Homo sapiens: one gene and its partners. The protein of the gene in region 4 purifies or fractionates together with the protein of the main gene of each other region. This does not show direct contact. Each region holds a gene or a part of one and is shown on either strand. Other genes may lie near its edges.

The links.
Region 1: the proteins of PSG1 (region 4) and SORL1 purify together in Homo sapiens (affinity purification with mass spectrometry; 2 studies listed by BioGRID and IntAct, with this or other methods). This does not show direct contact.
Region 2: the proteins of PSG1 (region 4) and COL14A1 purify together in Homo sapiens (affinity purification with mass spectrometry; 2 studies listed by BioGRID and IntAct, with this or other methods). This does not show direct contact.
Region 3: the proteins of PSG1 (region 4) and ANKRD46 purify together in Homo sapiens (affinity purification with mass spectrometry; 3 studies listed by BioGRID and IntAct, with this or other methods). This does not show direct contact.
Region 5: the proteins of PSG1 (region 4) and STK39 purify together in Homo sapiens (affinity purification with mass spectrometry, with the first as the bait; one large-scale study listed by BioGRID). This does not show direct contact.
Region 6: the proteins of PSG1 (region 4) and TCTN1 purify together in Homo sapiens (affinity purification with mass spectrometry; one large-scale study listed by BioGRID and IntAct). This does not show direct contact.
Region 7: the proteins of PSG1 (region 4) and TUBB1 purify together in Homo sapiens (affinity purification with mass spectrometry; 2 studies listed by BioGRID and IntAct, with this or other methods). This does not show direct contact.

What each region holds. Positions count from the first base shown.
Region 1 is NC_000011.10:121,556,814-121,560,313, forward strand, and holds part of SORL1 (sortilin-related receptor preproprotein), read left to right. Parts: intron 1-500; coding exon 501-592; intron 593-1,777; coding exon 1,778-2,024; intron 2,025-2,705; coding exon 2,706-2,844; intron 2,845-3,500. UniProt on the Homo sapiens protein: Sorting receptor that directs several proteins to their correct location within the cell. Along with AP-1 complex, involved Golgi apparatus - endosome sorting.
Region 2 is NC_000008.11:120,131,602-120,135,101, reverse strand, and holds part of COL14A1 (collagen alpha-1(XIV) chain isoform 1 precursor), read right to left. Parts: intron 1-3,500. UniProt on the Homo sapiens protein: Plays an adhesive role by integrating collagen bundles. It is probably associated with the surface of interstitial collagen fibrils via COL1.
Region 3 is NC_000008.11:100,549,760-100,553,259, forward strand, and holds part of ANKRD46 (ankyrin repeat domain-containing protein 46), read right to left. Parts: intron 1,975-3,500; exon of another isoform or gene 781-1,974; intron 1-780.
Region 4 is NC_000019.10:42,873,214-42,876,713, forward strand, and holds part of PSG1 (pregnancy-specific beta-1-glycoprotein 1 isoform 2 precursor), read right to left. Parts: intron 1-3,500.
Region 5 is NC_000002.12:168,241,096-168,244,595, forward strand, and holds part of STK39 (STE20/SPS1-related proline-alanine-rich protein kinase), read right to left. Parts: intron 1-3,500. UniProt on the Homo sapiens protein: Effector serine/threonine-protein kinase component of the WNK-SPAK/OSR1 kinase cascade, which is involved in various processes, such as ion transport, response to hypertonic stress and blood pressure.
Region 6 is NC_000012.12:110,638,129-110,641,628, reverse strand, and holds part of TCTN1 (tectonic-1 isoform 1 precursor), read right to left. Parts: intron 1,247-3,500; coding exon 1,112-1,246; intron 606-1,111; coding exon 480-605; intron 88-479; coding exon 2-87; intron 1-1. UniProt on the Homo sapiens protein: Component of the tectonic-like complex, a complex localized at the transition zone of primary cilia and acting as a barrier that prevents diffusion of transmembrane proteins between the cilia and plasma membranes.
Region 7 is NC_000020.11:59,017,991-59,022,228, reverse strand, and holds the start of TUBB1 (tubulin beta-1 chain), read right to left. Parts: upstream 2,801-4,238; 5' UTR 2,707-2,800; coding exon 2,650-2,706; intron 1-2,649. UniProt on the Homo sapiens protein: Tubulin is the major constituent of microtubules, a cylinder consisting of laterally associated linear protofilaments composed of alpha- and beta-tubulin heterodimers.

The DNA of each region.
Region 1 (3,500 bases), on a different chromosome or scaffold from region 4:
TCCGCATCAGGCTTGGAGAAGCAAGAGATGACCAGCCTGGCTGACGGGAAGGAGCAAGAATATGAGTCCCACCTGTGGACTCTTCATTGCAAGGCTGTGACATTGAGAATTTGTTTTATGGGAGTGTGGAGTCATCGATTGCCTTGGAACGTGGAGTGACACGGGATGGTGAAATAAGTAAATGCTCATTTGCTTATTTACTTATTTGAGTAATTTACTTATTGATACTGCTTTGTCCAGATCATCATGCCCTGGAAACTGGGGCTTACATGGTTCTAGCTCCTCTTTCAGACCACTTGAAAATTGTCCCATGAGTCAGAGGAAGGAACAGCGCATTGTGACTAGAAGTTGGGGCAGGTTTCGCAGATGGGTCAGGTCAGGGAAATAGGCAGGCATGGAGGGGGCATGTCTGTAGCAGAAGCTGAGTAGCCATCTTTGGCAATGGGGGTCTTTAAGGAGCTCCGATCCATCTCAGCCTCTTTTCCCCCTGTTTTTGTCAGGTAGCTAATCCAGATGGCGACTTCCGACTCACAATCGTCAATTCCTCTGTGCTTGATCGTCCCAGGGCTCTGGTCCTCGTGCCCCAAGAGGGGTAAGTGTTGCCCCAAAAGGAAATCAGTCTTGCGTCCAATGCTACACTAATAGATTCTCATGGAAACACAGACTGCGGGACAAAAACTCTGTTTCTCATGATGGTGGTTGAAATGGTCTATTAACTGAGAAGTTTGAGACCACAGCTTAGTCATCGTGGTCAGGTAACTCCGTTCGCTTTTTGTTAGCCAGTGTCAGAGTCTCTTTAGGCATCCAGATGTCTTGCATCTGTGGGTTGTTTCTCTAGAAAAGTTGATGTTAAAAGAGAGCTTCTGTAGACATAGACAGGCCTGCTTGGATATTGTGAGAACTTTCTCTTGAGTTTCATGCATGGTACAAACATTTAATTCATTCCATCTTTCCCCTGCCTTCCCAGCATGTGTAGGTTTTCTTACGTACAATCAGTGTGCACTTGGGGAAGGCAAAGGTGCTTTTTATTAACTCATTAACTGAAGGAAACATAATTAAGAGGGAAATTCTGGATTTGACATTCTGGCTTTTCCTCTCTCGTAGCATTTATGATAGAGAATTGGCACAATTTTTTTCAAGGAAAATTCTAAGAGTAATGTATGTACTTGGTTGACAATATTTAGAGAGAACAGCACTTTATGAAAAAAATTTGCATTCTTCCTTTTCATTCTTAACCCTTTACCCTCACACTTCCTAGTGGTAATCATTGTTAATAATGTCTTGTGTATCTTTCATGATTGCTTTTACTTATGTACAAGTATTATCTTTAAAACACACACATATACACACACATGCACGCCAAATAGGATTGTAGTGTAGTTACTATTCTGTACCTTTTTAAACAAACTTAATATGTATTGAAAATAGTTCTGTGTGAGCATATATAGATTTTTAGGTTTCACAGTATTCTATTATATGTACCATAATGTGTCACTTCCTCTGCTGATTAACATTTAGTTTAATATACATACATATACATTTCTTTGTATATTATCTTTGCATAATTTGATTTTATCTATAGATAAATTCTAGTAAAGGAATTTCCAGGTGAAGGAATTTAAGTAGTTTCAGGTGTTGTCATTACATATTGTTATAATAATGCTGAAATAACCAGCCGGATCATTCGAAAGGAGTTTCTGACCTTTTCTGGAGTAGTATTTGAGCTCCCATTTCTCTAGTATTGATGAGGTATGTGTTCTGTCCCCATTTTCGCTAGGGTGATGTTCTGGACAGACTGGGGAGACCTGAAGCCTGGGATTTATCGGAGCAATATGGATGGTTCTGCTGCCTATCACCTGGTGTCTGAGGATGTGAAGTGGCCCAATGGCATCTCTGTGGACGACCAGTGGATTTACTGGACGGATGCCTACCTGGAGTGCATAGAGCGGATCACGTTCAGTGGCCAGCAGCGCTCTGTCATTCTGGACAACCTCCCGCACCCCTATGCCATTGCTGTCTTTAAGGTGAGTCCATTTGTTGCTGCCGGACAGTCTGCTAGAGCGGGTGAGGAGCATATGAGATCAGGAGCCTGCATCCCTGGGCTTTGCAGAGAAGCTGTTTAACTTCTTAAAGGTTGCCTTTTTTCCAAATTTGAGATAACTTATTTTCAGCCTATGGAGGGATGCCAGGCAGAGGCGCCAAGGGTCCAGGCTCCCCTGCTGTTCACATTTCAAAAGGTTAAAAGTGAAGGCTCTTCCCATGAACATTCCCAGTTTGCCCCTCAGTGTCAGTAGCCTCATTTCAGGGTGGTGTCTTCATTTTTTGTGCGCTTTGCTCACTTTATTCTCTGATGACTTCCGGTGAGCTCTGCACCACCTATAGTGCCTTGCAGTTCTTTTTCGACTCTGGAGAGCAACATGGCTCTTCCCAACTCTGGGAAACAGATTTCAAACTGAGGGGGTTGGGTTTGTGTCATAAACTTGAATGCTTATCAGATAGTTTCTTTTGGGCAGTTTCTTCTGTGGGGTTATATGGTGAGGTTTGGATAAAATTGCTGTCCTTTGCATTTAAGTAGAATCTTGATCAGGCTAGTCATTCAGCCAATAAATGTTAGTTGTCTCCTGCCTGGGGGAACTCTTACCCTTAGAGAGAACCAGAATAAAGAACGAAAGAGCTGGACTAATGGGCAAAGGTTTTCTTTTTAGAATGAAATCTACTGGGATGACTGGTCACAGCTCAGCATATTCCGAGCTTCCAAATACAGTGGGTCCCAGATGGAGATTCTGGCAAACCAGCTCACGGGGCTCATGGACATGAAGATTTTCTACAAGGGGAAGAACACTGGTAAGCCAGAGTCTCTTCTTTTGTCTCTGTAGAGTTGATCTCAAGAAAGGGGCTGCGTGTGGCCAATCTCTGCTCAGAGTAGGAGCTGGCAGCCTGCATCTTTGTTGTCACGACAACATGCACATTATTTAATTTCTTCCTAATGACATCTTAATTTCTTTTCTAATGATACACAAACAGCTGGAAGACAGCATGCTTTTGCCTGCCTAGAGTGTTGGTGCTTGGTGGGTAATTACACCCTCCTCCTGCCCTTGGCCCCTGACTGATTGGTGGCGCGGCTTCTGTTGCAGCTGGGAGAGTCCTAACATGTGCTTAATCCCTGTTTGGCATGCTTGCAGGAAGAGACTCTGTGCTGGGTGCTCAGATAGTTGTTGCTTCCTGACAGGGCCTCTTGCTTGTTCTCTGGTTGCCCAGATGACCTATTGCTCATTGACCGTACCTACCTCTGCTGGAATGGCACTGTGTAGTTAGGTGTTGTTTTAATTAACTTTTCCCACCATGAAACCCTAAACCCCATGAAGAAAGAGATGGTCTTTTTTATTCCCCGATAGTTTTACCAGTGTCTAGCACTTTGTAGGTGCTCAATTCATATTTGTTGAAAGAATAAGGGATGAAAAGGGAGGGGAAGAATTGCAGTGGGTGCAGACAGTAGCTGT
Region 2 (3,500 bases), on a different chromosome or scaffold from region 4:
AAAGTATGACTGCACATCTTTCATTTACTTAAGCTGTCTTTTGTTCGGTGAACTCTCTAGCATATCCTTGGTCATTTTTCTATAGGATTGTTCATCTGTTTTTTGTTTGTTTGTTTGTTTTTTGTGATGGAATCTCACTTACTCTGTCACCCAGGCTGGAGTGCAGTGGTGCAATCTTGGCTCGCTGCAATTTCCACCTCCCAGGTTCAAGCAATTCTCATGCCTCAGCCTCCCAAATAGCTGGGATTACAGGCATGCACCACCATACCCAACTGTTTTTTGTATTTTTAGTAGAGACAGGGTTTCGCCATGTTGGCCAGGCTGGTCTCGAACTCCTGACCTCAAGTGATCTGACTTCCTCGGCCTCCCAAAGTGCTGGGATTACAAGCGTGAGCCACCACACTCAGCTAGGAGTGTTCATCTTTTTATGAGAAATTTTTGTATTTAATATGTGGCTCTTTTTCCATCATATATGATAAAACACGTTGCCCAATATTTATTTTTTTTCTTTTTTATCTCCTATGGTTTATGACATGCATATAAGTCTCTTTCTCCTTTGGAATTATAGCATTTTCCTATATTTTCTTTTAGTATTCTTACATTTTCAATTTTTAAATTGAAATCTTTGATCATCTAAAACTTATTTTGATGTAAATGAAAAAGTTTTAACTTTTATTCTCCATGTCTATCCAATTAGTCCAATACCACTTATAGAATAATTTACCTTTTGATCACAGGTTAACAATGCTATATTTTATTTTCGAATCTATCGATTTTCTATTTATGTGTGACTATTAAGTAATTGTAAATATCAAAACTTTATAATATGTTTTAATATTTTCTTTTAAGTTTTCTTTCTGATTATTTTTGACTAGGTACCAAAAACTCCTCAAAATTGGGATCATGTTAAATTAGTAGACCAATTTAGGTAGATCGACCTTTTTTATACAATAGTCCATCTTTACATCAAAAAAGAATATATTCTTTGTTTATTCAAGCCAGTCATCTTCATTTCTTCATGAGCACTTTAAAGAGTTATATAAATTTGACATTTTGAGTTTATTTCTACATATTATATACATATATGTTTTATTTCCTGTTAATGGATTTTTCTTAATCACTTTTAAACAAGTTGTTTATTAATTATAGTAAAGCAATTTTATTTTTATATTAATTTTGTAACCTACCTTGAATAGTTTAACATTTTTTCAAAGTCTTAAAGTTTGTAAAATTGATTTCCTTAATTTTTTCTGTAGATGATATCTTTCTTCTTACCTTCCAAATTTTATGTTTTTCATTTCTTTCCCTTTTCTTATTACTTTGGCTACTATCTCCAGAATATTTATCCTGGAAACTTTGTCTTGTTCTTATTTTTAATAGCAATGCTTCTTTGGCATGACTTTGATTTTGAAGACACATGGCTAGACAGACTGTTAGAGAAGACAAACACAAATATACTGATATAAATGTATCATGTTTAGTAAATTTCCATCTGTGTAAACTTTATTGAGCTATTAATCTGAAATAAAATGTTAAATTATTGTAGTAGTTATGAAGAATATCCTCTAACTTTTTTCTCTTAACTTTTTAACATGACAATTATATTAATCCATTTTCTAATACTAAACTTACCTGTAAAATTTGAGCCCAACTTGATCATTGTGAATTATTCTTTTGGGTTCTATTTACTAATATGCTATTCATATCAATAAGTACATCAATATTAGTGAAATTAATCTGTAGCTTTTCTTTTTTATTATGCTGTGTCAAGTTTTGATATCAGTATTATTTTTTCCAGTTTTATAAAAAATAACAGAATTTTTTCTTCTTTCTCTATACTGTACTTTGGAACAGTTATTTTTTTTTTTTTTATTTTTTTTTTGTTTGAGACGGAGTTTCGCTCTGTCGCCCAGGCTGGAGTGCAGTGGCGCGATCTCAACTCACTGCAAGCTCCGCCTCCCGGGTTCACGCCATTCTCCTGCCTCAGCCTCCTGTGTAGCTGGGACTACAGGCACGCGCCACCATGCCTGGCTAATTTTTGTATTTTTAGTAGAGACGGGGTTTCACCGTGTTAGCCAGGATGGTCTCGATCTCCTGACCTCGTGATCCGCCCGTCTCGGCCTCCCAAAGTGCTGGGATTACAGGCGTGAGCCACCGCGCCCGGCCGGAACAGTTATAATAGCACGGTATTTTTATTTTTTTACATTTTCATTAGCATTCAATTGCAAAACCATGGGGAGAGTTCAGTACTCTTGGAGAGGTTACTTTTTAACAACTTTTTCAACATGTTTGTGTCTAATGTTTTATTCATAATTCCTGTATAATAAAAAATCAGTTTTAGTAATTTGTACTTTGTTTAAAAATAACTCATTTCATATCATTAAAATAAGAATACTGCCCAAAACACAGCCTGGGTGACAGAACAAGACTCTGTTTCAAAGAGAAAAAAAAGAACGTTACCCAAAACAATATCCAGGTTCAATGTTATTGCTATCAAACTACCTACATCATTTTTCACAGAAATAGAAAAAAAAAAAATTCTAAACAAAACCAAAAAAGAGCCTCAATAGCCAAAGCAATTCTAAGCAAAAAGAACAAAATTGAAGGCATCAAATTATCCAACTTCAAACTCTACTACAAGGCTACAGTAACCAAAAAAGCATGGTACTGGTACAAAAACAAACACACAGAAAACGGAACAGGTTAGAAAACACAGAAATAAAGTCACACACCTACAACCACCTGATCTTTAACAATGTCAACAAAAACAAGCAATGGGGAAAGGACTACCTCTTCAATAAATGGTGTTGGAATAGCTGGCTAGCTGTATGCAGAAGAATGAAATGGGACTCCTACCTTTCACCATATATGAAAATTAACTCAAAATAGATTAAAGGCTTAAATGTAAGATCTAACATTATAAAAAAATCCTAGAAGAAAACCTAGCAAATATCGGCTGGGCACAGTGGCTCATGCCTGTAATCCCAGCACTTTGGGAGGCCAAAGCGGGTGGATCATGAGGTCAGGAGATCAAGACCATCCTGGCTAACACAGTGAAACCTCATCTCTACTAAAAATATAAAAAATTATCTGGGCATGGTGGGGCATATGCCTGTAATCCCAACTACTAGAGAGGCTGGGGCAGGAGAATCGCCTGAACCCAGGAGGCAGAGGTTGCAGTGAGCCGAGATAGCGCCACTGCACTCCAGCCTTGGTGACAGAGCAAGACTCTGTCTCAAAAAAAAAAAAAAAAAAAAAAAAAAGAAAGGAAGAAAAAAGGAAGAAAACCTAGCAAATACCATTCCAGACACAGGCTTTGGCAGTGAATCTATGACTAAGTCCTCAAATCAACTGCAACAGAAACAAAAATTGACAAGTGGGATCTAATTAAACTAAAGAGCTTCTGAATAGCAAAAGAAACTATCAAGAGAGTAAATAGACAATCTACAGAATAGGAGAAAGTATTTGCAAAGTATGGACCCAACAAAGGTCTGATATCC
Region 3 (3,500 bases), on a different chromosome or scaffold from region 4:
TAGACAAATTTACAATGACATGTATTCATCATTATAGCATCAGGCAGATTAGGTTCACTGCCCTAAAAATTTTCTGGGCTCTGCCTATTCATCCCTCTCTCTACCCAACCCCTGATATTTTTATTGTCTCTATAATTTTGCCTTTTCCAGAATGTCATATAACTGAAATCATACGGTATGCAGCTGTTTCAGATTGGCTTCTTTCCCTCATAATACGTGTTTTCTGTATCTTCTCATGGCTTCATAGTTTCTCTTTAGGACTGCATAATATGTCATTCTCTGTATGTATTACAGTTTATCTGTTCACCTACTGAAGGACATCTTGGTTGCTTCCATGTTCTGGCAATTATGAATAAGGCTGACATGAACACCCACATGCAGGTTTTTGTGTGGACAGTTTTTCACTCCTTTGGGTAAATACCAAGGAGCATGATTGCTGGATGGTAAGAGTATGTTTAGTTTTTTTAAGAAACCACCAAATTGTCTCCCAAAGTAGCTGTACCATTTGGCATTCCCACTAGCAATGAATAAGAGTTCCTGTTAATCCACATTCTCACCAGCATTTGGTGTTGTCAGCGTTCTAGATTTTAGTTAGCCATTTTAGTAAGTGTGTAGTGGGATCTCATTGTTTTAATTTGCATTTCCCTGATGACATATGACGTGGAGCATCTTTTTCATATGTTTATTTGCCATCTGTATATCCTCTGTGATGAGGTGTCCATTAAGATCTTTGGCTCATTTTTAAAATCAGGTTGTTCATTTTCTATCTTTTTTTTTTTTTTGAGTACAGAGGACTTTATTGATGGTACACGACAAGATAGAGCTCTTTGTGGGGTCTGCATGGAAACTGTGAAGAGGGGAGATTCCCAGTGTGGTGGGGGACTGAGCATGGCAGGGACTGCCCAGAAGCTGAAGGTCTCTTTCTTCCTCTTGTGCTCTCACTGGGGCTGGTTGTCGAGCAGTCTTACTCCTTGGAGGCCATATGGGCCACCACCCTGTTGCTGTAGCCAAATTCACTGTTGTACGAGGAAATGAGCTTGACAAAGTGGTCACTGAGGGCAATGGCAGCCCCAGCATCGAAAGTGGAAGAGTGAGTGTCACTGTTAAAGTCAGAGGAAACAACCTGGTGTTCAGTGTAGCCCAAGATGCCCTTGAGGGGCCCTCTGACGCCTGCTTCACCACCTTTTTGATGTCATCATATTTGGCAGGTTTCTCCAGATGGCAGGTCAGGTCCACAACCAACACGTTTGCAGAAGGACACGGAAGGCCATGCTAGTGAGCTTCCTGTTCAGCTCGGGGATGGCCTTGCCCACAGCCTTGGCAACACCAGTAGATGCAGGGATGATGTTCTGGAGAGCCCCACAGACATATGCCACAGTTTCCCACAGAGGCCATCGAGTCTTCTGGGCAGGAGTGGCAGCATGGATTGTGGTCACAAGTCCTTCCACAATGCCAAAGTTGTCATGGATGGGCTTGGCCGGGGGATTAAGCAGTTGGTGGTACAGAAGGCATTGCTGATGATCTTGAGGCTGTTTTCAGACTTCTCAGGGATCATGCCCATTATGAATATGGGGGCATCAGCAGAGGGGGTAGAGATGATGACCCTTTTGGCTCCCCCATTAAGTGAGCCCCAGCCTTCTCTATGGTCATGAAGATGCCAGTGGACTCCACGGCATACTCAGCTTCAGCATCACCCCATTTGATTTTGGTAGGATCTTGCTCCTGGAAGATGGTGATGGGATTTCCATTGATGACAAGCTTCCCATTCTCAGCCTTGACGGTGTGGTGGAATTTGCCATGGGTAGAAATACTGGAACATGCAGACCATGTAGTTGAGGTCAATGAAGGGTCATTGATGGTGACAATATCCACTTTACTAGAGTTAAAAGCAGCCCTGGTGACCAGGTGCCCAATATGGCCCAAATCTATTTACTCTGGCCTTCACCTTCACCATGATGTCTTAGAGACATGGCTTTGAGAAGAGGATGGTCAGCACTGAGTGACCTCAGCCAGCACCCATACCCACCTCTCTTTTTGTTGAGTTTTAAGAGTTCTTTGTGTATTTTGGATAACAGTCTTCATCATATATGTCTTTTGAAAACATTTTGGGCTGGGTGCTGTGGCTCACACCTATAATCCCAGCACTTTGGGAGGCCAAGGTGGGCGGATCACCTGAGGTCAGGAGTTCAAGACCAGCCTGGCCAACATGGTGAAACCCCGTCTCTACTAAAAATACAAAAATTAGCCAGGTGTGGTGGTGTGCACCTGTAGTCCCAGGTACTCGGGAGGCTGAGGCAGGAGAATAGCTTGAACCTGGGAGGTGGAGGTTGCAGTGAGCCAAGATCGCGCCACTGCACTCCAGCCTGGGTGACAGAGTGAGACTCTGTCTTAAAAAAAAAAAAAAAAAAAAAGAAATGTGTTATTTAATGTCTAAGTATTCAGTGATTTTCCGGCTATCTTTCTGTTATCAAATTGTAATTTAATTCCTTTTCGTCTGAGATCAGATATTGGATGATTTCCATTTTGGCCAATTCCAAAACAGCTACAGCCTCACTCATTACTTTGTGCTTGTACTCTATAGAGATGGTTATCCTATTTACTATTCTGACTATACTTTGGCGCTTTTTTTTTTTTAACATCAGTTATTGCCAGGTGCCCAAACATGAATTTAATATATTATTTTGACTGAAAATCAACTATGTGTTTTTAATTTCCTCAGATGTCCCCTGTCTACCTAGACTCCATTCCTACCTGTTCCACTGGTACCCAACTCCACTACTCTTCACTGCTCATATGCTTTGGAGGGGTCAGTCTTTATTATCTAAGGCCATGTAACATATCACATTCCCTAGCTATTGTGGTTTATTTAAAGGTGAGCAAGTGACCAGTCCAATAAAACTCTTTGCTTGGAATGCCAGAGAAATACATTCACTTTATTTTTCTATGGTGTATAAATGAGATACCTAAAATTGCTTTTGTCATTTTTATATTTCATAGATAGCAAGTATACAGAGTGAGGCAGAACAGATAAAAGGGTCAAGCCTTGGGCTTTTCCTATTACGGGTATCAATAAAGGATCTTTTTAAGACAGTTTAAATTAGGTTTTCTGTTACTTAGAACAAAATATCTAAATGACACAGAATCTGAAGTGGTCATTACTATTTGATTTCCACTCTTATATGCTTCTGTCATTGCTTCCTAAAAAGGAAAAAAATATGGTTTGTGGCACATGTTTCAGCAAAAGACAAAGGTCAAAGGGTGAAGTGCACTGATATTTAACTCTCTTTGAGAAGGAGCTGAATCCAGGCCTAAGAAATCTCATGTTCAGCACAGGAGATTGAACACTGACTGAGAGCTTGGTAAATTCTAGAACTGACCAAGGAGATAACCGAAAAACAAGTTGAAAGGATATTCTGAATAAACAAGTGAAATAAAAATAAGCCTATTGTGGGAAAACTTTTATAAGCAATCCACAGTTTTTGTTGTGTTTAAAAAAAATC
Region 4 (3,500 bases):
TTGAAACTAAGTGTTTTGGATGTCTAATTATTTTTTTATTTTGGAATATTTGCAGTACATGTACTGGTTTAGCATCCCAAATCTGAAAAATTTAAAATCCACAATGCGCCAGTGAGCACTTCTTTTTAGCATCACATCAGTGGTCAGAAGTGTTGAGTTTTGAGCATTTCAGATTGTGGATTTCTGGATTTCCGATGCTCAATTTGTAACAGTGTAATTTTTCCGTAAAAATTTGTCAGGAGTTTAGACCTCATGTTATATTCTGACTCTAGTAACAAAAAAAATTTGGAGGAAACATTAAAATGTTTTCATAAGTGGAAATTTTTACTGATGGTCCAAACATCTAAGATCAATTGCTGGTAGTAGTATTTCTCTTGAGACCAAAATAAGGTTTAGGTGTGCCGTGAATTCCAGCAGGATCACGTTATGCTCAAAGAAAGATGCCAAAGGTGATTTGAAATTAGCAGCTCCTTAAGTAGAGAGAGTCCCATTGAAAGGACCGAACTGGTCAGTGCATCAATTACATAAAGGGAGAAAGGATGTCAAATTAAAAGAAGTGATGTGTGTTATGTTAGTAAATATAGAAAGAACTCCCTGCTTCTAAATTCTGTGCAGAGTTAGGAAAAATGGGGAGGACCTCAAAACAGGTATGTGAAATGCTTTCTTCATTTTCTCTTAAGCTCAGGAAACACCACTAGAGTTTAAGTTTGTGTGAATTAGGAAGAGTCTAAGTGAGATGGCAATGGCTCTTGTGTCTCCCCACACGAAGATCTCCAACTTATGAAAATGACATCATCATGAGGAAACAGTTATAGGTGGCACAGGCAGTAAAACCATCAGATAACACCCACCTGGTCAACTCCAACTAGTCCCCAAAACCACCGGTATTCCCATTACGTGTACATTACAGTCTTTGTAGTTGTCCCACAGCTACAAAATTTAAAAATTGCTATTGTCAAAACAAAATATTAAATATGAAGTTGAATATGTTGTTCCACTTTTTTTCCCCACTCTTTTTGAACTTTCCTGTTTCAGTTTTGGAAGTTTCTGTTGACACATCCTCAAGCTAGGTATTCTTTCCACAGCTGTGTGCAGTCTACCAGTAAGCATCAAAAGCATTCTTCATTTCTCTAACAGGGTTTTTTTTTTCTGAGACAGAGTCTCGCTCTGTCACCCCGGCTGCAGTGCAGTGGCATGATCTCAGCTCACTGCAAGCTCTGCCTCCTGGGTTCACACCATTCTCCTGCCTTGGCCTCCCAAGTAGCTGGGACTACAGGGGCCCGCCACCATGCCTGGCTAATTTTTTGCATTTTTAGTAGAGACGGGGTTTCACCATGTTAGCCAGGATGGTCTCTATCTCTTGACCTTGTGCCCGCCTCGGCCTCCCAAAGTGCTGGGATTATAGGCGTGAGCCACTGTGCGCAGCCGTCTCTGAGGGAGTTTAATGAGTTGTTGCCTTTTGAGTTTGTTCAGCTTTTTACTTAGTGTTAGAACCGAGTGACAAATTTCAAGCTTGTTATACGCCTGTCAGGAAGCTAGAACTCTCTAGAAAGTGACCGGAGAATGTGAGCTCCATAGCAGGTTGAGGATGGCGTCATGAGTGAGGATGGGGTCAAGAGTCCACTCAGAGATGGAGTGCCCAGCCATCTCTGAGGGATTTTAACAAGTTGTTGACTTTTGAGTTTGTTCAGCTTTTTACTTAGCGTTAGAAACCAGTGACAAATTTCAAGCTTGTTATATGCCTGACAGGAAGCCAGAAGTCTATAGGAAGTGACTGGAGAATGTGAGCTCCTTAGCAGGTTGAGGCTGGAGTCACAGGTGAAATGAGCCCATGGGGTTTGGGGACAGCAGGCCTGTCCAGCCTCTGACACCCTGGTGAGTCAGTGCAGAGATTACAACAGTGACAGCAAACTAGCATGGCTGACTCCATCTGGCATCTAGTCTCAGGCTGGCTGTCCTCACTCATTCCTGGGCATAGGCCAGGTTAACCTTGGGAGGAATTTAGTTTATGGTTTAAACTTGAAGCAAGAATGATAATAGTTCCTCCATAAAACTAACACCCTTACTTTGTCCAGGGACTGCCTTTGTAAAACTAGTGAAAGACCATGAGATTAAGATTATAGGAGGGAACTGAATTTTGCTAAAATGTAGGCACAGTTTCTATAATCCCTGACTGCTCCAGTGTCATTGGGACAGGGTTTACAAAATTTGTAACTAATTGCTCCTATAGATAACATCACTATTGTAGAACGTGAGATTGGTCTTTTGAGATGTTTCTCATTCTTTTGCATTCTGGCAACCGGCTGACCTCATCCATACCTATGACTAATGGCTCAGCCAGTCATGTGGTCCCTACCTAGAGGCAGATTCAAGCACAAACAGATCATGTCCCCCTGCCCCCATGATTCCATCACCAAACAATCAGCAGTACTAATTTTTTAGTCCTGTGGCCCTGAAACTATCCTTGAAAATCTCTAAGCCCTGATCCACTGGGGAGGCTGATTTGAGTAATAATAAACCTCTGTCCTCCTGTTTGGCAGACTTGGAGTCATTAAAATCTTTCTTTACTGCAAACCGCCATTTCAATTATTTTATTTTATTTATTTATTTGTTTTTTTTTTTTTTTGTGCAGGAGGCCAGAGGAACTTGTCTGGCAATTATGAGAGTGGATGGAGGAACTGCCTATCCCTGTCCCATGGTCTTGTCCACAGGTCAGCCTCACAAAGGGAAAGAGCCCTGGATGGGAATACAGTGGAAGGTCATTCTCTTAGTGACCTGGGGACATTGGCTCGAGAGGAAGCCTGGCAGGAGTGGCAACTCCAGATGATTTCTGTGCCTTTCCTCTTTCCTGGGAGGTGGGCCAGGCCACAGTGTTAGTGGGAAGGGAACTGAACAGCCAGAGTGGTTAGAGGGAGTGTCTAGGGAAGGCCTAGAGGTGGAGGAAGAAGCTGTGCAGGACAGGGCTTGCCAGTCAGAATGAAGTGGGAGGAAGATGAGGGACACAGAGAAGCAGAGAGAGGCAGATACACCATGGCAGTGAGCAGTGAGGGAGACACTGTCTTCAGAAACTCCAGGGACCAGGTGCCCCCAGTTCCATAGTCCAGGACCAAGGAGCCCTCGAGAACCCTCCGGTGGCTTAAGAGCTTCAGAATTACATGAGGTGGGGTGGCTTTAGGGGCAAGAGGTAGTGGGGGGATGAAACATGGATGTCAGCCTCTGAAGGACAAGGGACAGGTGTGGCTAGAACCTCCTAGGATTCTGCATCCAAGATCCAATCTCTAAAGAGGTTTTGGATCATTCATTTCTTCATTCCATTCCTTCATTTGTCATGTGAGAGCTCCTGAGTGTGTGTCTCTCTCGCTGGGCCTGTGGTGGTGTAGAGTGTGAGTGGGGAAAGAAAACAAGGTCCTCTCCTTGATCCTCTCATGACAGTGACAAGGACACTTTGGGAAACACAGGATTTCAGGTTCAGTGATGGTGGTTAAGATCTGAGGAGGAGG
Region 5 (3,500 bases), on a different chromosome or scaffold from region 4:
GAGTAGCCAGAGGAGAAAGAAGTAGGGAGAGTGTTTTGTTTTGTTCTCTTTTGTCATTTAAACATAAGAGACAGGCTTGAGAATATTTATAAACTGAGGGAAAAGCAAAGAGGGAAAGAAGGAGACAGGGAAGCAATGGTGATGACTTTATCTGAAAATGAAGGCCTCTGTCCTCGCACTGGCTGGGACACACAGGGAGCGTTTCTTTTAGTCAGCAGCATTTCCTGCCAGCATGGCAGCCTCCGGGCAAACTCAGAGGTGGAGGAAAAGTGCAGTCCTAGCAGGTTGTTCTCGGAGCCCTCTCATAATGGGCTGCTCCTCTTCAGCAACCTTCCCGCAGGATGCTCTCATCACTTGTCAGAGGGCCATTTGGCACCTAAACCCCTGAGCTGTCCAAATTGCCAGGAGCTCCACAGGTCTCTTCAGTTTCCTCCCACAGCAGTGGAGGTGCAAGGGGAAGCCAGATCCCCAGGGGCCTCTCCCCTTGTAAGCCCCTTCCAGCAGCCCAGCACAAGAGTGGGAATAGGGAACAACCTCTCTTTCCCACTTCCTCCCTGCTAGAAACATAGCACAGAAATCTTCAAGCCACTCCAGAATCCTGCCAAAGATAGGACTGTGTTCTCTCCTGATAACTTGCATCTGATTAGCAAATGAAGTCTATAGAAGTTATGGCTAAGACTAATTGAAAGCATGCTGTGTGCCAGGCACGATTCTCAGTGCTTTACATTCTCTCATTCCTCACAACCCTATTTTTATCATCCCTATGTTACCAATGAGGAAACTGAGTGCAGACACATCTAAGTCATTTGCTCAAGGTCGCAGCGTCAGTGACCGCCATTGCAGGACATGAAACAGGCCAGGCTGTCAGACTCCAGAGCCGGCACTGCTGCAACTTATTTTCAAACACCATCACAAAATGTACTATACAATAAACCATAAAAGTCAGGGAAGAATTCATAATATCACTAGTTAAAAATCAAATGCATAAATAAAGGATTGCAGTCACTTTACCACAGTTTCAAGAGAGATCTTGAGATCTCTCCCCCCAGCCCCATGACAGCACATTTAAAAGAGTATTTATCTTGTAAATATAATTAATGCTACTGAATTGCACACTTTAAGAACGGTTAAAATGGTACAATTTTTGTTGTGTATATTTTACCACAATAAAAATAATACAAAAGAGGCCGGGCACAGTGACTCACGCTGTAATCCCAGCAACTTGGGAGGCTGAGGCAGGCGGGTTACTTCAGACCAGGAGTTTGTGACCAGCCTGGCCAACATGGTGAAACCCTGTTTCTATCAAAAAATACAAAAATTAGCCAGGCCTGTAATACTAGCTACTCGGGAGGCTGAGGCAGGAGAACTGCTTGGACCTAGGAGGCAGAGGCTGCAGTGAACTGAGATGGCGCCACTGCAATCTAGCCCAGGCAACAGAGCAAGACTCTTACAAAAAAAAAAAAAAATATATATATATATATATATATATATATATATATATAAAGAGGCCAGGCACAGTGGCTCACGCCTGTAATCCCAACACATTGGGAAGCCAAGGCCGGAGCATCGCTGAGCGGAGGAGTTCAAGAGCAGCTTGGGCAACATAGTGAGACCCCCATTTCTTAAAAATAAAAAAAGAAAAAAAAAATTAGGCAGGCATGATGGTTTGCACCTATAGACCCAGCTACTCAGGAGGCTGATGTGGGAAGATCACTTGAGCCCAAGAGTTCGAGGCTGCAGTGAGGTATGATTGCACCACTGCACTCTAGCCTGGGTGACAGAGTGAGACCCTTTATCAAAAAAAAAAAAATACAAAATACAAAAGAACATTTCTATATACATTTTTCTATTTATTAAAAAAGAAAGTGAAATGAAATGAAAATCAAAGCCCTGTCTTGAGACAAAGCATTTCAGACATCATTTAGTATTTTAAAAACAACAACAAACAAACTAATCAAGATCAAAGAACCCACTGCAGCAGCAAGGCAGCCTGGTATAAAGGTCTGGGAGATCAGAACACACTCAGTGCTCCGGCTCCCTTACCCTAGCGCCAGCGAAGGTACCACTGTCCTCAAACTGCCTCTAGGATATCTATAAAAACCAATTCTAACCCCCAAACCATAGAAATCCACAGAAACTCTGAGAGCACAGAGCAAAGTGGGAATGCCCAGGGCTATTTACAATCTCATTTTACAAGAGGCTGTTGCTCCTTAAAGACCTGGCCATATGTGCTATTACCTGGACCTGAGTAAAACGCACCTGAATGGATAAACAATGCCTCACAGGAGAGAAATAAAGCATTCAAAGGAACCCTCTGTCAAACCATGTCCAGGATTCTAGAACTCAAATTCTTCGTGTTGACTAAGATGGCAATTTGTTACTTTTAGGTCATTCTAAATGACCACCCGGGACAAAAGTGAAGCAATGCTGAGAAATCTAGTATAAAACTACATAAAGAAAGGTGCATCCTGCAAAAACCCTAAGAAAATCAAACAAACTCCTGCTGAGGCAGGAGTCTAGGGTTTCTCAGAAGAAATTCAGCAAAGATAACAACATTGCTGGAATCACCTAATTCAAATACAGAAATTAGTACTTCAATGACTACAATTCTTTGAATGAGAAGTTCATTGAGGCTGCTCCATTCCATTACGGATGGCCAAGTAAACACTTATATGATTCACTTTCATTCCCTGTTTAGCAAATCTAGGTAATATTATTAACACCCCCAACAAATAAACTAAGTTTTCAACTGGCATAGCTTTAAGTGCCCCTTATACTTCTAAAGGTAGGGGTACCTACTTTTGGGGGCTCAACTCACCCCCAAATTCCTTCTTTAGAGAGGTAAGGAACAAAGATTAACAAGGCTGAAGAGTATAAACAGGTCGGAAAGCCTCCAAAAAGACAGAAATATTTGAAATCTACTAAGACAAGGATATCAATGTCTGGAAGAAGGAATTTAATAATTTCCAACATTTTTAACCCCTCTGTAAATATAAAGCTCCCTCCCATCGATTTTACATCATTTCCAGGTCATGAATAAACTTATGAACCAGAATACTCCTAAGAGCATTACAATTTCTCCACTGACGTTTTAAAACACAAGAACAACAATACAATAAAGAGAAAACTTTATTTTTAGGTTTGCAAAATCCTGTGTTTATTTTTCTAAAACTGAAGTCAAACAACTGAACCTGCTTTGTTTGGATTTTAGTAAACTTATTCTCTCTTAATCCTGGGGGACCAAACTCTGCCCAGAAGGAAATGAAGAAAAAGTCCTCCGTGCCCGTGCCATGCTGGAAAGTTAAAACACGGTGCCTCCTTTGGTTTTCTGTTCAGGCACATCTGAGCCTCCTGCTGCTGGTCACGGTTCACACTGCTGGAGTCATATCATATGACACCTGCCGTATGGCGGGTAGAAGCAAAGGCTGTCAACTGGCATTCATGTTGAAACTGGTTCAGTGTTTGAACTGCTAACTTCTGCGTGTAATGTTTAAGCAAAA
Region 6 (3,500 bases), on a different chromosome or scaffold from region 4:
TCCCTTATGAGGCTGGAATCCAGCAGCTAATGGGAGCCCCACGACATAACCAGGGTTTCCACTGAGAGGGACTGGCTGGGTATTTTCCTGAAAGACAATGCAGAAATGCCCCCAAATAATTCTCATTTTAATAAGGAAATGGCAGGAAGAAAAATTCTTCTTTCATAATAAAATATGGAATTACCAACCAATAAAAGAATTTCTCCCTCCCTACTCAGAACTATAAATACATCTGCCAGGTGTAGGAGTACATCATACTGTAAAAGAACAAGCTAATGTGGAAGGGAATCTTTTCCCAAAAGGAAAAAAGATACAAGGAGAATGCTTGGTTTCATTACAAATGCACAGGCTACACAAAGCCCTCTGTTCACTACAAAGGCTTGGATGTAATACTTAGAAATTCAGTTTTATCCACTGAGAAGTCATTATTTCTTTTTAACTTGGCAATTAAATACTTATGCCAAATTGATCAACCTTACCTGAAGAAAATGAATTTCAAACTTTTGCTGCAGTGGGACCACTACGCTGCTAACTGTCCCCAGAACGAATGAGAGATCAGCTTTGGTGACTTCACCTGCATCTGTGTATGTGAGGCTGTACTTTACCTAAAAACAAAATGATACTCCAAATATACCTGTTCCATTACATTTCAGAAGCTGTATGAATAACTGAAAACACCCATAGATAGCAAATCTTTCCCTGTTTCTCCATGTGTTGAAGCCTTGCTCTGCTGTCCAGTTGGATTATGAGAGGTGTTCCCTCAGCACCACCCCTAGCAGACAGGGTCATCTGAGCCACTCTGCCCAATTACAGAAGTTCCACATAAGCTGGTCCAAGCAGAATGCAATAAGCCTATCTCTGCAGAGGAAACATGTTAAAACAAAAACAGCAACAACAAAAATATTTTGATGTATTCCGGCAAGTCACTAAGTTTGTGGAGACAAGAGGTGTCCTTTGATGAGACAGCAGAAAGACAAGCAGGCAGCTGAGCCAAGAAAAGCCACACCATGGGCTGGGACAGAGCGTCCTCGGAGGGCGTCCAGTTACCCCGGCGCAACAAGAGGCTTAAGTCTGCCACAGACAAGCTCTCAAAGCCAAACTCGGCACCTACCTCAAGAACAACATTCACGCAAAGGCTAAAGTGTCCAGCGTTGACGAGAGTCGGCTGCAGCACATCAGTGTCCTCCCGTCGGGTGAGCGTTTTATTTAGAGACTGAATGACGATGGACTGAACAGTGATAGGGACCTGCAGAGTGAAGACCTGGAGTGTTGAAGATGCTCTACCCAGGGAGGATGGGCTAAAATAACCAACCAACTGGAAAGAAACCTCCCCTGATATATGGCCAAGTAGGGGGAAGCATGCTACACAACAGTGTATATACTATGATCCACATTTGCAAAAGTAATAAACATATATACATTCACAAAGAAAATACTTGAGAGGATATAACCAAAACTTTAAAAGTAGTTACCTCTGAAAACATAAAGTTTACACAAAAACTTGTACACAAATGTTCACAGCTGCACTATCAAAATAGCTAAAACCAAAAACCACCTAAATGTCCATCAACTGATGAATGGATAAATACAAAGTCTAGCCTTACAAAGGCATATGACTCATCCCTAAAAATAGTACTAATACATGCCACAGTACAGATGAATCTTAAAAACATGCTAAGTCATGGAAGCCAGACACAAAAGGCCACAGTTCTAATTCCATTTATACGGAATGTCCAAATAGGCAAACCCATAGAGACGAAAAGTAGATCGGTGGTTGCCAGGGGATGGGGGACAAAGCTGGGGAAGAATGAGGAGTGACTGCTAACACAAGGCTCCTTTTTGGGGTGATGGAAATGTTCCGGAATTAGTGGTGATGGTTGCACAACCTGTGACTATACTAAAAACCACAGAATTGTATACTTTAAAATGGTGAGTTTTATGGTATATGAATTATATCTCAAATACACACAAAACTCCATCACACTGTCAAGCACACATATATATCCTCACCTCCAAAACACAACTCCTACACACTCCATACCCACACATGCACATTCACATGCAGTCCCAGGATATATATCCTTAAGCCCCCACACACCCCCGAATATTCATTTGACCCAATTTATACACAACTTCTATACAAGCGCAAGCACGCTCACACACACATACACACACACACACACACACACAGTGGTTTCTCTGGGTGGTAGGATTATGAGCAACAAAAAACAGACACAGACAAACATTTTCAGCAGCACCAGGGAAGCCCTGCTTATCCCAGTGCTATTAAAGGACGTTTTGCATTCATGGCCACCACCAGCAGAGTAACAAGGCATCAAGCCATCCTCTAAAGGTAGCTGAGCCTCCTCGTACTATAGGATGAATCTGTCATTTGCTCTAAACTTCAATTCTTAGAAACCACTGTTGAGGAAGGAGCCTCATGTATCTATTAACAGTTGTTTATACCACTTTGAACTTGCACTCAATCATGCACCATGCTGTTTATAATTCAAAATGACCAAGTATTTAAGCAGTTATTTTAGAGATAAATAAGCAGTCCTTATGTGTCTGCTCCCATGACCAAGAAGACCTGCGAGTCAAAACCTCTCATAGAAGAAAGTGACATGACTCAGTAACAAAGACGTGAGCTGTCATGTGACGAGAATGGCAGAAGGGCAATGCTAGTCACTGTGAGGCCCTCTGCATAACATGCCGCACCAAGGGGTTTCAGCATGGAGGGGGTCCTAGGCTGTTATTCAATTAGCTCTTGTTTAACACAAGGGCAACCCCGGGTTCCTTACTCTGAGCATAGTGGCCCCTGATTCAGCAATGACACCGGGTTCCAAGAAAGAGCATAGCCTGCCATACCAGCCTCTGCTGGAGCCACTTCCATGGTGTGTGCGTGGAATTGGCAAAAACCGAAGGATTCAGTGTCAATGAGCTTTGGAGAGTCCTGGTGTCAATGGCAGGAGCTGCCCTCGTCTCGACAGCTCACTCAACTGTCCCGAGAAGGAAACAGTAGCGCTGTGCTGATTTCCTTGATTCCTCTTCTACCACATACCATTCCCAAACCACACACACACTGGTAAAGAACTCCAGCATACTCAATGAAACTACAGGGCTACCCTGGAATCTTTCACTGATGGCTCCACAGATACTGACAATGATTCCAGGCAATCATAACAGTCTTCACTTAGTGGGGAGATTAGACCCAATTTCTATACTCCTGATCCTCTAACCTTAAAATCTGCTTTTTAAGAAAATTTTAAACAAATTCCTACTATTAGTTTACATGCTTGTCCTTTAGAGCACAACCTTTGGTGTCACACAGACCTAAGTTGGAAGTCCCAGTCTGCCACGTCCTGTGTGGCCACAGGATGCAAAGAAGGAAGGTGTGTGAAGCCTGTCACATGGGCTCACAGAGTAGAGCTGGCCCAGTATGGTGGTAAAGTATAAGGTCCCTGGGGCCAGACCACCTAGATCCCTGTCCCAGCTCTGCC
Region 7 (4,238 bases), on a different chromosome or scaffold from region 4:
TGAGTAGCTGGGACTACAGGCACGCACCACCACGCCCAACTAATTTTTATATTTTTAGTAGACACGGGGTTTCACCATGTTGGCCAGGATGGTCTCTATCTCTTGACCTTGTGATCCACCCTCCTTGGCCTTCCAAAGTACTGGAATTACAGGCATGAGCCACAGCACCCGGCCTTTCTTTCTTTTTTTTATTTTTTTATGTTTGTTTGTTTGTTTGTTTATTTATTTATTTTGAGACAGAGTTTCACTCTTGTCACCTAGGCTGGAGTGCCGTAGCACAATCTTGGCTCACTGCAACTTCCACCTCCTGGGTTCAAGCAATTCTCCTGCCTCAGCCTCTCAAGTAGCTGGGATTACAGGCGTCCACCACCATGCCCAGCTAATTTTTGCATTTTTAGTAGAGACAGGGTTTTGCCATGTTAGCCAGGCTGGTCTCAAACTCCTGACCTCAGGTGATGCACCTGCCTCGGCCTCCCAAAGTGCTAGGATCACAGGCGTGAGCCACTGTGCCCGGCCAGTAATGTGCATTTTTGATTGTCAGGTATACATACAACTCACAATTACACATAGTTGTCCTCTGGTAACTATTTGAAACATACTGCACTTCCAGTCACATACACAGTACTTATTAATATAGATATGTGCCAAGCTCTTAATATGGAAACAGTTACTGGGAAGACTCCTTTTGATCACCCTGAAAGGCACATATTAAAATGCAATGAAAATGTATTCACATATATTAAAATCCCCAAGGGTATGTTAAAAACCCCAGCCATATCTTCTAAATGACAGTGCTGCTCTGGCCATGGTCTTAATAACAAGGCAGTTCATGGTAAACTGCCAGCACTGTTCAGGGAGTGGAAGAATAAATAAATTCAAGTTCTAAGATACCCCAAATTAAATGTGTCTTAAAGTTCTTATATCTCTAAATGATGAGTCAGCCAGGACTCTCAACGCTAGACCATACGATTCCAGAGTGAGAGCTAAAACCCTATCTAAACCTAACACTTTCTCTTGAGGGCCCCTTTCCGTATTATCTTCCAGCTTCAGAGCAGCAGGGCTCCTGCCTCCCACTTCTCTGTGTGTGAGTTATGAATGTCTTACCCCTGAGGCATGGAGGAATGGTGACTTCTTTTCAAGCAGTAATGTTCCTTGCCCCCGGTTTAAAACGCCTGCATTTAAAAGCCTTAGTTGTTTCCTGGCAGCATTACTCACAGTAGCCAAAAGGCAGAAACAACCCAAGTGTCATTGATGGATGATGAATGTAGGTGTTTCAAAACCTCACTTTTAATGCATCTCATATTAGTAAAAGTAATTTCACAGCAGCAAAGAGAACACGATAAATTTTGCACGGTGCAATTGGTCATCTTAAAATCAAGATTGGAGATTGTGGGTTCGGGCATCTGTGTTCTTGGGGTTGGCCAATTAAGTTACGTACTTGGGGGAAATTTTTAAGCAGGGGGGCAAGGGAAAGAAAAACTCATTTATATTCCAGACAGTGTATTTTAATTAATTATGTTACTGTACACAAAAAACTTTTATTTTCAATTAAATTTCTTAAATTTTCAATTGCATACTAATAAAACAGTAATTGATTTTTTTTAAGCGTTACAATAAACATGAGAGGGGAGGGGAAAGACACCATAGTGACAGGGTACAGAAAGTTTCTCAAAAAACTTCAAAAAGCTGTTTTGAGACAAATTACTGTTTTTAGATATGAAAAGTTCATTGTTAAGATAAAAGTGGGCCAGGTACAGTGGCTCACGCCTATAATCCCAGCACTTCGGGAGGCCCAGGCGGGCACATCACCTGAGGTCAGGAGTTCGAGACCAGCCTGACCAACATGGTGAAACCCCATCTCTACTAAAAATACAAAATTAGCCAGACGTGGTGGCGCATGCCTGTAATCCCAGCTACTGGGGAGGCTGAGGCAGGAGAATCACTTGAACCCAGGAGGTGGAGGTTGCAGTGAGCCAAGATTGCGCCATTGCACTCCAGCGTGGGCAACAAGAGTGACACTCCATCTCAAAAAAATAAAAGATGATAAAAGTGCCAGGCACGGTGGCCTACACCTGTCATCTCACCACTTTGGAAGCCTGAGGCAGAAGGATCACTTGAGCCCATGAGTTCAAGACCAGCCTGAGCAACAAAGTGAGATCCCTGTCTCTCAAAAAAAAATTTAAAAATTAGCCAGGCATAGTGGTGCATGCCTGTAATCCCAGCTACTCAGGAGGCTGAGGCAGGAGAATAGCTTGAGCCCAGGAGGTTGAGGCTATAGTGAGCCATGATTCTGCCACTCTACTCCAGCCTGGGCAACAGAGTGGGCAAAGAAAAAGATGATAAACGTATTATGTAATATAATGGTCGGCATGTATTGTACATATGTATCTATGGATAAAATTAACATTAATTAAATTAACACTCTAAGCACTTAATGTGTGTTGTAGCTCTTTAGTTAAAGATTGTTTCCTTCTTTTCCCATGTGAAATTTTTTTTTAAGAATTAAAGCCCAAAGGCATTGTCTGATATTTAGCAAGTACATTAAATCTGCTAGACTTATTGTCTTCCCTGCTAACTTAGGGTATTTTTTTGGTTGTCCGCCTCTATGGACTGTGGTAAAGCTAGGATTAGTAACCAGACATTACTTACCTTGGCTCCGATCTGGTTGCCACACTGGCCAATCTGAATATGGACAATTTCACGCATCCTTGCTCTGAGCCCAAGTCTGAGATCTTCACGGAATCCTCAGACTCTCAGAATCCAGAGCTTCGGTTCACTGGTGTGAGCCCAACACAACTGTGGTCACTGCAGTGGTGGGACTGGCCAACCAAGCTACCCTCACAATGTGACCAAGGGTGTGTCCACCCCAGAGGCCCAGCTCCCCGCCCTCAGCCAGTCCTGGCCCTTCTCTGCTTTCTGCCTGTCATGCTTTTGGAAGGGAGTGTTTTTCCTCCCTCAACACAGAATACTGCCCCATCATTTCCTAGAGAGTGAGTGCAAGATTAAAGGCCACCTCGGGGCACAGGGCCTGGAGGCTGGCACTGTTTGCAGGCTTCTAGGTGACCATGCTGGCCCTAGTGACCGTGGTATGATGACTGTGGCTCCTAGCTCACCCAGGTAACCAGACCACCTCCAAGGGCTTTCCCTGTCCATCTTCCCGGCCCCTTTTCCAGACTTTGGTCCCCAGAAGCCCCGTGCCCCGCCACAGCAGGAGGCTCCACAACTGGGCCTCGCAGGTCCCAGGTCCCGGGATGGCCTGCATCAGGCACTGTCTGCCCGCCCTCCCCCACATGCCCTCTCTCGCCCTGTATGCAAGTTACTCTGCAGTGTCCTGCAGGTCTCTTGGACCCCTGCCCTATCCATGCCAGGGCTGGGCTGTGCCCCAGCACCCTTCCCAGCCCCTGCTCTGTCGTCCCATCTCAGCTCATGGTGTCTGGGGTCTTAATGTTTGCCATAGGGTCCCTTTACCAGACCCTGAATTCTCCAAGAGCAAAACGGACTCCCAATTGTATTCCCTTAGAGCCGGGTGTGGTGGCTCACTCCTGTAATCCCAGCACTTTGAGAGGCCAAGGTGGGCAGATCACCAGAAGTCAGGAGTTCAAGACTAGCCTGGCCAACATGGCGAAACCCCATCTCTTACTAAAAATACAAATATTAGTCAGGTGTGGTGGCACACACATGTAGTCTCAGCTACTCGGGAGACTGCGGCAGGAGAATCGCTTGAACCTGAGAGGCGGAGGTTGTAGTGAGCCGAGATCATGCCACTGCACTCCAGCCTGGGCGACAAAACAAGACTCTGTCAGAAAAAAAAAAAAAAGCATTCCCTCATGCGGTGTACAGGAGTGGCAGCAGGCTGGGTACTCAGCAGCTTGAAAGCAGCTGTTCTGTCTCCTGGTCCTCAGTACCTCCCCTGCCACCAAGTTTCTATCATCGTCGAAAGCCAGCCCTAGGCTTTATTACCTCCAACCAGGCAAGGGCATCCAGGCCAAACACCAGCTCCATATCCTTGCCCAGGAGGGTGGCAGTTCCCCACCGCCTGGAGGACAGAAGGTGGAAGCTTCCAAGGAAGATGGGGAAGGGACTCCCTGAGAAGGCGTGAGAGCCCTGGCTCGGAAGGGGAGAGCCAGTGGACGCTGCCTTGTGCCTGTTGAGCTGTCGAGGTGCAGGTGGGCAGGTACAGGGCAAGGCCTCACTCCTGAAGCCCCGAGGATGTGGACAACCACCATCCGGTGAGCAAC